Regions from separate parts of the Homo sapiens genome. Here regions 2, 3 and 4 are each reported to be linked to region 1. The links are microRNA targets in miRTarBase. Many come from high-throughput screens and were not tested one by one. Region 1 holds a microRNA gene; each other region holds the end of a gene's coding sequence.
Evidence for each region. The annotated mature microRNA hsa-miR-617 reads AGACUUCCCAUUUGAAGGUGGC and lies in region 1 at 843-864, shown strand. An mRNA with a match to its seed (bases 2 to 7 or 8) in the 3' UTR can be bound and repressed. Matches are read on the target gene's strand: a 7mer-m8 pairs with bases 2 to 8, a 7mer-A1 pairs with bases 2 to 7 and ends in A, and an 8mer does both.

Region 2: the mRNA of CCPG1 is a reported target of hsa-miR-617. The part of its 3' UTR that is shown has no 7-base or 8-base seed match.
Region 3: miRTarBase lists NFAM1 as a target of hsa-miR-617. The part of its 3' UTR that is shown has no 7-base or 8-base seed match.
Region 4: miRTarBase lists IFRD1 as a target of hsa-miR-617. Seed matches in the 3' UTR shown: 7mer-m8 at 1,963-1,969.

The regions. Positions count from the first base shown.
Region 1 is chr12:80,830,315-80,833,456 of GRCh38, reverse strand. MIR617 (microRNA 617) reads left to right here and starts at 828; the gene lies at 828-924. All of the region lies in intron 4 of LIN7A (lin-7 cell polarity scaffold A), which reads left to right.
Region 2 is chr15:55,353,614-55,356,613 of GRCh38, forward strand. It overlaps CCPG1 (cell cycle progression 1), which reads right to left. Exons shown (of 9, transcript NM_001204450.2): 9 at 1,626-2,796. The coding sequence ends at 2,607. It overlaps PIGB (phosphatidylinositol glycan anchor biosynthesis class B), which reads left to right. Exons shown (of 12, transcript NM_004855.5): 11 at 1,185-1,365; 12 at 1,673-2,035. The coding sequence ends at 1,819. DNAAF4-CCPG1 (DNAAF4-CCPG1 readthrough (NMD candidate)) reads right to left here. Exons shown (of 16, transcript NR_037923.1): 16 at 1,610-2,796. Among named protein-coding and RNA genes, the nearest start is that of MIR628, 18 kb to the right of the region's middle.
Region 3 is chr22:42,382,548-42,385,689 of GRCh38, forward strand. It overlaps NFAM1 (NFAT activating protein with ITAM motif 1), which reads right to left. Exons shown (of 6, transcript NM_145912.8): 6 at 1-2,673. The coding sequence ends at 2,614. Among named protein-coding and RNA genes, the nearest start is that of LINC01315, 15 kb to the left of the region's middle.
Region 4 is chr7:112,474,971-112,478,112 of GRCh38, forward strand. It overlaps IFRD1 (interferon related developmental regulator 1), which reads left to right. Exons shown (of 12, transcript NM_001550.4): 12 at 460-2,233. The coding sequence ends at 549. Among named protein-coding and RNA genes, the nearest start is that of LSMEM1, 4.4 kb to the right of the region's middle.

The sequences.
Region 1 (3,142 bases):
TAGAAGTTCTGGAGGGACATGGTGGAGGTCTTAACTGGAAGAGGGGCAATTTGGAGAGAAAGGAAAAGATTTGAAAATGACTTTGGATGTAACGGGACTATAAACAAGAACTGGTGATTGACTGGATATGCAAGGTGAAGAATAGGGAGTTACCAAGAACTCTTGGGTTTCTGACAAGGATCTTGCCTCTTGTTGACACAGCAGAAAAGATGGTTCAGGTGAGAGTGAGCAGCTGAGTACTTGGAGGTTGTGTTGTCTATGGCTCAGCCATATGAACATAAACAAGGGCATAGGTTTTAATTTAGTTTTGCCTTTTCCAAGATGTAAATTTAATTAACTGAGCTCTATCAAACTGACAGCATTTCGAAGTAGAACACTTAAAAATTATATTATGTAAACTTTTCACTCAATTACATTTGTCAACCAGGATTTCTCACCCTTGAAATTGCTGATATTTTGAATGGGATAATTCTTTCTGGGGGAGGCCATTCTGTGCATTGTAGAATGTTTATCCTGGCCAGTAACACCCTCCCCATCCAGTCACCACAACAAAAAATGTCCCCAGACCTTTTGAACTGTCCCCTAACAAGCAAAATCATCCTTGGTTGAGAATCACTATCTTAAACTAAATTAGTTCATTTTCATGAAAACAGTTCCAAACCATATAGTAGCTACAATATTAAAATCTGAAAAATGCACACATTGTACACTATGCCATAAATATGAATAGAATGGACTTCTACCAAATCATAGCATCAACATGTTTGTAGCTAAAGAGTAGAGTTGAAGGGATGGCCTGGAGCCATGTCACGGAAGCTACCATAAGCCATCATAAGGAGCCTAGACTTCCCATTTGAAGGTGGCCATTTCCTACCACCTTCAAATGGTAAGTCCAGGCTCCTTCTGATTCAATAAATGAGGAGCATTCTGGAAAAGAGATTTCATCCAAGGCTTGATCTCAATTGAATGTTCTGTGTGGAGGAGCACCAGAGTTGATCCCAATTACCATGGATGACAAAGGCAAAGCAATTGACAGCTTGCCATTATTAAATTTGGTATTGAATCTGTCTCTACAGGCAAACGTTATTGTAAGAATATCACTTTAAAATCTTCAGTCAGACTGCTAATAAGATTTATTAACCATGGTACCATGTCTGGCACTGGGAAAGGAACAGTTTAAAGAAAACGTAGATCATACCCTAAGGGAGCTTACTTTGATCTAATTATCCTAGAAACACCAAGTTAAGTTTTTCATAAGTAGAAATGGATGCACTACTCCTAATTGCCTTAGCTTTAGCTTTGAGTGATTTGTAGAAATATTGTGCCAATATGTCATGAACAGAAATATGCCAAAGCCTCACCACTCTTCTTTTTTGCCTAAATCTAGAAGGCACAATATCTATTTGACCACTCAGTAAAGTCTGTAACCAAAACCTGCAGGGTACCTGAATGCTGTCTGTCTCTCAGTTTTACAATGGATCTGAAATGAGACTGGCCACCAGGCTAGACAGTGCACAGCCACTCATCCTGAAATTCCCCTTATTTTTGTGGCCATGATCTGTTTACATTTTGAAAATCTAAATTACATGATAATTATTATTTTGCTATGCACTCTTAGGCAATGTAAGAGCAACTTTAAATATCATTGCCCATGTTATAGCAATTTAGACACAGCTAATTACCACAGGAACCTAGGGCACACACCATTTCACATGAGTCGTGTTTTATTAGATGAAATTGGCAGGAGGGATAATGCAAAGTTGTATGATGTTGGTTATCACACCACACATCATGTTATGGGACAGGATTTGTAATTGCTTCAAATATATTTTCCTTCAGTTGTATTGGATATAATTTTGCATATATTGGCAGTGTTTCACAAAGAAGCCCAATCACTTTCAGTCTGCTTGGTCTCTAATAAATTTGTTTACTCTTCTAGAAAAGGATTAATAATTATGTGCAACTTTTAGTATGTCTATTTTGTAAATAAAACAAATCAAATATATTCATTAAAATTCCCCTGATGCATTATCAATTATTTATAGGAATGTGAGACCTTGGGTCAGACTTTTAACTTTAGCTGTCTTTGTTTTGTTACTCTGCCTAGATCCAAGCACATTCATCTGCTTTCAGTAATATATTAACTGCTCAGTGACTCCACCAAAGCCTTAGTTTGAGAGATGTTAGATAGGGCAATAAATCGACAAAATATACATGAACTTGTATCTAAAGCACCTGTGTAGCCAAACAAGGCTATATAACATTGCTTGGCCAGTTTCAATAGTCATTCACTCAGTCACTCAATAAGCATTTATTAGGCATCTACATTGTACAATTTGAAGCAGTCAGGATTCTTTAATGAAAAAAAAGAGACAAAAAAGTCCTTACCTTTGTGGAGTTCACATTCTAGTATGGCAGATAAGCAATAAACAAAATAAATAAGGAAATCCATATAGTGTTAGAGATGGCAAGTGCTAAGAAAATTAATCAGTACAGCGTAAGGAGGCTAGGGGATGCTATGGCAGGGAGAGTGTGGTGCCGGTCAGAGTAGCCTCAGTTAAGGGGTGATATTCAAGGTGGAGGTCAAAGGAGATAAGGGAGTGAGCCACACCTAGGGAAGAACATTCAGATCATTCTCCTGTGACCATCAGAGGAAAGTGTCAACACCAAGTCTTTAAGGTTTGAAGGGCACTGGCATTCGAGAGAAGCAACGAAAAACCAGTGAAACTGGAGTGGATTGGAGTAGAGGGGAGAAGGAAATGAGTTCAGTGTTAGTAATTCACTTTCATTTTCAATTTTTAGTTTTTTTCTAATTAAAAAAAATCAACTTTTAAAAAATATATCTTCTACTCAATTATATGTGCCATTGTGTTAAAATGGCAATTTTTAAATCCCCAGACATTAAGTTTAGAAATAAAGCAAGCACCCCCAAATGTAGTAACAACATTGGTAACAAAAGTAATGGAAAATACTTCCTTCCAGGGCTTCTAAGCCAAGCGTCTGCAGAGCACTCTAAATGCACTGGGCCCTTTAGTTCTCAGTAAATCCCTATAGGGCACAAATTCAATGTCATTGGTGGAGTTTGGTGAATAATTTGCTAACTTATCTGAACCTTAGTTTTCTCATTGCTAAAAGATGATAA
Region 2 (3,000 bases), not on the chromosome of region 1:
TTGTTTTGAGACAGACTCTTGCTCTGTCGCCCAGGCTGGAGTGCAGTGGCGTATGATCTCAGCTCACTGCAACCTCCGTCTTCTGGGTTCAAGAAATTGTCCTGCCTCAGCCTCTTGAGTAGCTGGAACTACAGGCACATACCACCATGCCCGGCTAATTTTTGTACTTTTAGTAGATACAGGGTTTCACCATGTTGGCCAGGCTGGTCTTGAACTCCTGACCTCCAGTGATCCACATGCCTTGGCCTCCCAAAGTTCTGGGATTACAGGCATAAGCCACTGCACCCGGCCTACTCTAGTCTTTCTATGCCACAATAAAACCATTACTTATTTGGATGTTAATCAGTGGACATATGTTGCTCTCTACTTCTCAATCATCTTAAATAAAAAAAAAAAACACTTCAAACTTGCCATGTGGCTGGGCGTGGTGGCTCACACCTGTAATCCCAGCACTTTGGAAGGCTGAGGCGGGTGGATCACCTGAGGTTAGGAGTTCAGGACCAGCCTGGCCAACATGGTGAAACCCCATCTCTACTAAAAAAATACAAAAATCAGCCAGGCGTGGTTGGCGGGCGCCTGTAATCCCAGCTACTTGGGAGGCTGAGACAGGAGAATTGCTGGGAGGTGGAGGTTGCAGTGAGCTGAGATTGCGCCATTGCACTCCAGCCTGGGTGACGAGAGCGAAACTCTTGTCTTCAAAAAAAAAAAACTTGCCATATAAGTATGTGATCCATCCCCTATCAGAGCAGAAAGGGAAGAGAGAAAGAATCCTTTCTGATTATGATCACAGTTTCCTACTTTATCAAATACACCTATGGAGAATTACTCTCCTATTAACAAGTTAACTTACCTGGTCCTGAGGACCATTTATGTTTCCGGAACAGAATACCAATGCTACAGAATGTTGAGTCCCCCTACTGACCTACTTCCCTCCTTGAAATGGACTTCTATGCACTAGTTTGGGCTTATAGGTTATACTGCTGCTGCTGCATAGGTACATGGTATAAGAATCATGTTTTTTTTATCTTTGAGAAAATGAGTTAAAGGCTTGCTTCTTCACTTAACTGCAACACAGTTTACAGATTCAGATTTCACATTTTGCTAAGTATAAATGACATATCTTAAGACTAATGAAAACTTTCATGTTTTACTTGTATTTATTATGGTAACTTTTCTTTTCATAGCCATGTTCACTGCCCACTTCCCATGAGATTTCTCCAGTGCCCGCCAGACCTGACTGGAAAAAGTCATTATCTTGATGAAGCAGATGTATTTTACCTAAATCCCTTAAACTGGTTACATAGAGAGTTTCATGATGATGCATCATTGCCTACTCACTTGATCACCTTCAGCATTTTGGAAGAGGTAAGTAAACATGAAAAAGAGGAAAACTCAGTATTTTAATTTTACCCCAGGTTTAGGAAACCCTCAGGTAAATAGATAATATAACCTTTTTATGGTCTGTTTCAACCCACATTTCATAATTAGTCTTTTCTCCAGTCAAAATTAGCCCCAGTTCTGTAACTATCAAAGTATTTTACTTCCTATAAGTTAATTCTTTTATTAAGCAAAAAGTTGTAGACAGCAATTAGAATAGGCAATTCTAAAATTGACTGAAACAGTACTCAGCAAAATGTAGCCTTTATTTACTTAAACATTTATTTGCTTCTAGGAAATAAGCGCTTTCCTAATTTCAAGCAATTATAAAAGAACTGCTGTTTTCTTCCACACTCACTTGCCAGAGGGTCGAATTGGAAGTCACATATATGTCTATGAACGGAAGTTAAAAGGGAAATTCAACATGAAGATGAAATTCTGAACTTTCCTAGATAAATTAACATTGCTGGGTGGAAATATTCAGATGCTGCTTAAATACTTCGGTAAACACTGGGTAAGATTCATGGAACTTAGAAAAAAGCTGTATGAACTGCTTTACCAAATATCACTACTGAGGAAATGTATAAAATACCACATAGTATAAAATTACATGTTAATACAATGCCAGATTTTAAATAAAGACCTTTAGTTTTCCTCATGGTGTAGTTTTATTGTTTCTTCCACGATATTCAGATGTGCAAAAAATTTCACAAGAAAACAAGTCAGCAAGCTCTTAAGAGGGCAGCAAATTCTTCACAAGTCAGAGGGCTCTTGAACCCACAAAAAGACAAGAAGTGAGTGTAAGATTATAAAATGTTAATGATGAAATTCCAGAACAATGTACTTTTCTCAAGCTCTGCTGCAAATTTAACACAAACATCAGTGTTAATTACACTTTGTCATGTATGACTGAGCTTGCTTTAAGCTCTTACACTGAAAGGAAGTCTCATTTCATGCACAAAATCTGTTGCATGCCTGGCTTCCTTAATAAAACTACAGTTGAACATTTCCAGTGTCAAAAAAAATTCAACGAAGCTAAACTACAGGAAAATGCAGGTTAGTAGACTTTTAACTAATGCTTCTGAGGAATAATATAAAGTTATCAAACTGATACTTAGAAACAAAAGAAAAGACATTGTCATCTTGGTAATTTCATTAGTTTCAATACCAAACATTATACAAAGCATAAATTTTTCTCTTACAGTTGTCTAATTTAACTCAATTGTGAATCAGTATTGAGGATCAAAAGGTAATTGCCCCAATTCTATTTCAAGATTTGCCATTTGTCTTCCATTAGTGCGACCATATTTATGCCATTTACCTTCCCTTTTATAAGGCTGTGGCTGAAGGTGCTTCTGCTCTTGTTTTCGATGCCTGGAGTTTTCAATATTTACCATACGTTGCTTTTTATCAGGTCGACTGAAAGCAGTAAACACATTTTTCATCTATGTTAGAGTTCAATGTATTTAAATTTAAAACAATTTTAAATGTTTTCTCCATTAATCTATGATCTGAACACTGATAAAAGATATTAAATATCTGAATTACAATCCTAGTATATCCATATAAAAATAAAGGAGTCTGTATTAGTTTTTTTGTCCTATAGAAAGAAAAAATAGACAA
Region 3 (3,142 bases), not on the chromosome of region 1:
GGAGCTCCCATTCATACCCTCTCTGTCCCCTCTCTGTTCTTCCTCCTCCCGCCTGCCCCATGCACCTCCCACCCTGAAGTTCCCTGCCACCCCTCGCCCTGTGCCAGCTTGTCTCTGCAGGCTCTCAGTCCTGGGGGCTGGAGAACAGGTGCTCAGTCCTCTTTGCTGCCCACAGAAGTCTCAGAACATTCTTGCCCCACCCTCCCTTGGGCCAAAGCCCTTTAGGGTCCCGTCCTTTCATGCTGTGCTCTCCTCCTCCTCCTCCTCCTCCCTGCCTCTCTCCTTGCTCACTGAAGACCTCAGCACCCACTGCCTCCCAGCCTTGCCCTGAACCAAGCACAGACGACCACCACGCTGGCAATGTCTCTGTCCACCAGAGGGGTGATGGGTCAGCCCCCAAGAACCTCCTACGCCACAGGGAGGAGTTGGAATTTTATTCCAAGTGAGGCAAAAACCATGCAAGGTATAGAGCAGGGGAGGCCAAGGCCAGGTGTGGGTTTAATCGGGGTCTGTCGGTGGCAGGGCAGCTGCAGGGAGGCCGTGTTGGTGATGCCTGGGCCAGGGCACAGTGGTAAAGTTTAACCCAGGCTCCCCTGTCTACCCCTGAAAAAGACTGGAAAATGCTGAGTCCCAGCCAAGGGTCCAGGGTCTAGGAGCTGAGGTCAGAGAGGCCCAGGAGGTGGGGGAGGCAGGCCCAGTGAGGTGGCCCTCTCCTGGTCTTGCTGGCTTCGGTTTTCCCAGGGGAGCTCACTGCACCCTGAGCGGCATTGTCCCCCATTGCCCTGACCCTTGCCCCCACCTCCTTGGCTGGTGGAGCCAGGAGCCTGGGAGGCCCCTGTGCACACCTGGCAGCTTCACCTCCCCAAACAGGCCCGGAGTTCATTCAAATCCAGCCTCTGGGAGCAGGGGCCTTGCCACTCGGTTATGTGAGCCTGCTAAAGCCCTCCTTGCCATGTGTGCTTGCAGGCGGGGGCCCAGAACCAAGTTGGGAGGCCACTGGCTGTCCTGTGGGACCAGAGAAGTCTGGTGCCACCCTAGCAGGGCCAAGGGACTTCTTCTGGACGTCAGTCTGTGCCCAGCCTCTACCACCAGCTTTCCCTTCCCTGCAGGGAGGGGCATGACCTGCAGAACCAAAGGTGCTTCTGTGAGCCAGTAGCCCAGTGCTGCTTGGGGGCAGGGGCGGGGCCTGTGCCTTGGGTTCCCCCCCCTCCCTGGGCACATTTGGGGTTGGGGCAGCCCACACGGTGGGGTGGGAAGATTGACCTGCCCATTTTACAAATGAGCAAAGGTGGGAGAACTCAGGGAGACATGGGGGAGCAGAGGGAGGAAGCAGAGCCCAACAGCCCGGGGCACCCGGACCCCAGCCACTGCCTGCCTGTGGATGGGTTTCTGGCCACGGTGCAGGGCTACTGCGAGGAGGAAATGAGGGTGATGTGGGCACCTGAAACAGCAGAAATGGCTCAGGGCCAGGCACTGGGGAGCCACTGTCCCCATGGGGCTTGAGCTTCTGCCTCAGAGGGACCTTCCGGCTGCCATTGAGGGTCCCAGCACCAAACCCCACAGCTGGACCACTTGGGACCTCAATCCACAGGGGGCCAGGGCTGCGGCCTATGGCAGATAAAGATAGAGGAGGAGGGCTGGATGAAGCCACAGGTGGTGGGCACAGGATAGGCCAGACAGAAGGGACTTTGGGGGACTCCACCTTGGGTAGAAGGAGGGACAGCTGAGGTCCTGTGGTGGAGAAGGCCTGGAGCAGAGGGTGACCAAGGAGATGACAGAGTGCACGTACAGGGCCAGGCCAATGGGAGTGGGAACCCTTGGGAGAGGGAGCTTCAGGCCATTCATTCAGTTCCTGTTTAGCCAGCACCCTCCTCCCCTCATCTGTCCCTCTGCCCTCACCCCAACATGCCAGAATCTCCTTCCTCTCCAGCTTGTACCCAAGCCCTCTCTGCTCCATGCCCCCAGCCTGCTGACCACCTCTCAGCCATGTCCTGGGCCTCCAGATCTGTCCCTGATCCTAGTCTTGCCTCTGAGGGGTCCATCATCCTTGTCTGTCCCCCAGACCTCCCACGCCAGCCCCTGCTCCCACCCTGCCTGGCTGCCTCGTGCCTCTGGCCCAGCTGGGTAGGTAGGGATTTGCATAGCTGCTCCCCAGCTCCTCCATACCTCGGCTCCCCACACAGCACTGCTAGGCGCCCCTGCAGGGTCCTCCCTCAGCTCAGAGGCTGCCCTACTGGCTGAGGTGCAGGCTGGTGCCAAGAGAGCATGCTGCTCTGTCAGCATGAGGCAGTGAGCAGGGCTCTGGGCAAGGGTGGCATCCAGGAAAGCCCTTGAAGACTGAGGGGCGCTTTGCTGGTTGGGCCAAGGGAGGAAGGGCCTGCCTGGCAGAAGGAACAGCCTGGGCAAAGGCCCCAAGATGGGAAAGCCTTGGTGGTTGGGGCATAGAATGGGGGGGCAGTGGGGCCGGCCAAGACAGGAAGGGCCTTGAATGTGAGGGTGAAATGATGGGGTGTCCCTGGGGGCCTTACTCCCAACTCAGATCAAGTCCTTTGGTGGCAGGGGCTGCCCCGGTCCTCTGACCCAGGGCAAGCTCTATGAGCGGTGGAGCCCATCCTAGAGATTTTCATAGACCAGGTTAAGTTCGCCATCATCTTCGAATCTATGCGGTCTCTCCTGGATAGAAAAGAAGAAAGGGAGGGAAGGAGAGAAAGAGAGAGAATGACCATTAAGAATGAACTTGCACTAATTTAGTTTTAGCCAGAGGGCAACAGATCACTTCCTGTGTAGCTTTGATGGGGGGCCTGCCCTCTGTCTCCAAGCCCACCTCCCCAGCCTCTTCCCCCACCATGCTGCCCCCACCCCTGCCCATTGCCCTCCAGCCACATGGGCCTGCCCTTCCAGCCTCAGAGCTTCCCCCACAGCTCTGCCCTCTGCCTTCTGCCCTATGTGTGGGATGCGCCTCCTCCCACAGACACACCTGTTCCATGACTGCCCCCTACTCACTCTGCCTGCGGGCTCATCATAGGGTCCCAGGGACCCCCTCCCTCCCTCCCCACCCTGGCTGGTCCCTCCCAGAAGAACACCCCTCACAACAGGGCTACAAATGCCTCTGTGTGTCCATGGGGTCAGCGACCTATTCCTG
Region 4 (3,142 bases), not on the chromosome of region 1:
TTTTTTGAGACGGAGTCTCGTTCTGTTGCCCAGGCTGGAGTGCAGTGGCGTGATCTCGGCTCACTGCAACCTCTGCCTCTCGGGTTCAAACGATTCTCCTGCCTCAGCCTCCCGAGTAGCTGGGACTACAGGCATGTGCCACCATGCCTGGCTAATTTTTTGTATTTTTAGTAGAGACGGGATTTCACCGTGTTAGCCAGGATGGTCTCAATCTCCTGACCTCGTGATTCGCCCACCTCGGCCTCCCAGAGTGCTGGGATTACAGGTGTGAGCCACCTTGCATGGCCCCTGTTAACTCTTTGTTTTTCTCCTTCATTCTTTGTGTGTGTTTTATAAACATTTAAATGTTTATAGGGTCAAATTAGTTCATTTCTTTTCTTTGTGACTTTTACCCTTTTTCTGTTTTGTAAGAATATCTTAAGTCTTACTGATGCACGTTTTTCCTTTTTTTCATTTTAGCATTTATATAACTCTGCAGCCTTCAAAGCTCGAACCAAAGCTAGAAGCAAATGTCGAGATAAGAGAGCAGATGTTGGAGAATTCTTCTAGATTTTCAGAACTTGAAGACTATTTTCTAATTTCTATTTTTTTTTCTATTTCAATGTATTTAAACTCTAGACACAGTTTTTATCCTGGATTAACTTAGATAACTTTTGTAGCAGTGGTTATATTGCTTATAATTTAATGTACAATACTATTGAAACTGGTGAGTTCTGATTATTAAATATTCTCTGTAAATCAGTAAACATGTATAAAGTATTTGTAATGTTTGGTCATAATTTATTTATGAAGACAGCAAAAGACTGATTTCATGATGGGGAAAACAATTAGCCAAAGTTTAATTTCTTACACTGTGGTTGTCAAGAATACTGATTTACTATAATGATATATACATGCAAGATATTTAACTTAATATCTTAGACAAGAGTTCTGGGTACAATTTTGGGATCTAGTTCCCCTGGAAAAGCTGCTGTATTTTTAATTTTTAATGGAATGTAGCTTTTAAAATCCTGTCACTGGCATCAACAAAAGGAATTATACCATGAGACCTTATAGCTGTACTTAAAAGCCATTCAGTTCAGCTATTGGGAGTTCATGATGAATTAGCATATGCCAGAAAGGTTGCTAACCTTAACATCTGAGAGCAGTAACACTGATTTTATCTGCTGTATGAGACTTTGTGCATTTTACTTTGAAATAAAGATTTTTTTCCACACTGAAAGTGCTTCTCTTCTAATAGAAGAAATATTATTTATGGCTTTGAGGTACAGAGTCCAAAATGACTAGGCCAGGTGGGCAGGGAGACAAAGCTTTATGTGTATATTTACAAACATTAAAGTAGATGAAAAGAATGTAGCAATACATAATTGGGATTAAGGTTTCTGACTTTCAAGAATATTTCTGCTTGGCAACATGCAGTGTGGCTCATGCCTATAATCAGCACTCTGGGGAGGCTGAGGCGGGAGGATGGCATGAGCCCAGTTTGAGACCAGCCTGGGCAACATAGCGAGACCCTGTCTCTACCAGAAATTTAAAAAATGAGTGTGGTGGTGTGTGCTTCTACTCTTTATCTACTTGGGTGCTGAGGCAAGAGGGTAACTTGAGCCCAGGAGGTCAAAGCTGCAGTGAGCCGTGATTGTGCCACTCCAGCCTGGGTGACGAGTGAGACCTTGTCTCAAAAGCAAAACAAAAAAGAATATTGCTGCTTGTTTGCCCATGAGGTATATTTCTTTCATTTTATGAAAAGCATTTTGACAACACGTTAACATTTAATAAACTTTAGATTAAAATATATAGTGCAAGCAACATGCCATTTCAAATCCGTAGACTTGTTTCTTTGATACTCTTGCTGTAGGTCGCCGTGAGGGGTAGGGAAGCATATATACTGTAGGGAGAAGTATCAAAATCATTTAAGGTCTTTTTTCCAAACTAGTGTTCCCCTCCCACATCCCAACAACTCTTGGAAGTCTGGTGCTCCCTCTAGGTGAAAATCATTTGCTGGCTTATGGAGTCACTGTTGCTGAGTCCCATCCCCCAGTTACAGTGCAGTGGAAAACAGGTTTAGAATCTAGAACTTGTTTGTATGTTGTCACTTGGTTATGTTCCAAGTAGGTTAGAACCATGGAAAAGAGATTGCAAATGGTAGTTTCTTCTAGATATTCAAATGCATATATGTATGTACATGTAATTATAAATAAATAATGAATTTTTATTAAAGTGTTGTATGAACATAGGTTTTTGTTTGTTTTTGAGACAGTCTCCCTCTGTTGCGCAGGCTGGGGTGCAGTAGCGCAATCTTGGCTCACTGTAACCTCTGCCTTCAGGGTCCAAACGATTCTCCTGCCTCAGCCTCCTGAGTTGCTGGGATTACAGGTGTGTTCCACCACACCTGGCTAATTTATATTTTTAGTTGTGATGGGGTTTCACCATGTTGGCCAGGCTGGTCTTGAACTCCTGACCTCAAGTGATCTGCCCGCCTTGGTCTCCCAAAGTGTTGGGATTACAGGCATGAGCCACCGTGCCCAGCCTGAACATAGTTTAATGGTACTTCAAGGCTAATAAGGAAAGCCCCTTGCTCCATCCTTTCCTATTCCTCAGTCCCATCCCAAGAGACATTCAGCCTTCAGTTTTTTCTAGCTCGGTTCTTTCAGCCTTCAGTTTTTGGTTTTAGGTTTCTAAATAATATGATTATACAGCCATTTATTTTTTAGGTGTTTGTCAACTTACTATTAAGACAGGTGAAAATTTCTTTTATTGTTTCACATCCTTCTAATATTATTTTGGTTAGATCATGTACCTGTTTGCATAGCTGTGATCATACTTGTATGTTCACTCGTGAATTAATTTAATGTGCTTACATTTTCATTCTCATACAACGTTTTGTCTTGGAGTTAATGCTCTTTTTTTTGGCTTTTTATGCACATCATTGATTCTTCCCAAACAGTCCCAAATAAATTTGTCACAACTTTTCTTGATTCTGTACTTGTTTCAATCTAGACTAGTTTCTCTCATCCAATTGTATAGCAGTTTTCCTGAGACAGCACTATCGTGAGGATTTGTTTTTCTTTCTCTTGAATTGTATCCCTCATTTTCTGGATCCCATGTCTTAATTTACTTCTTTGTTAACATGGAGCACTTCTTT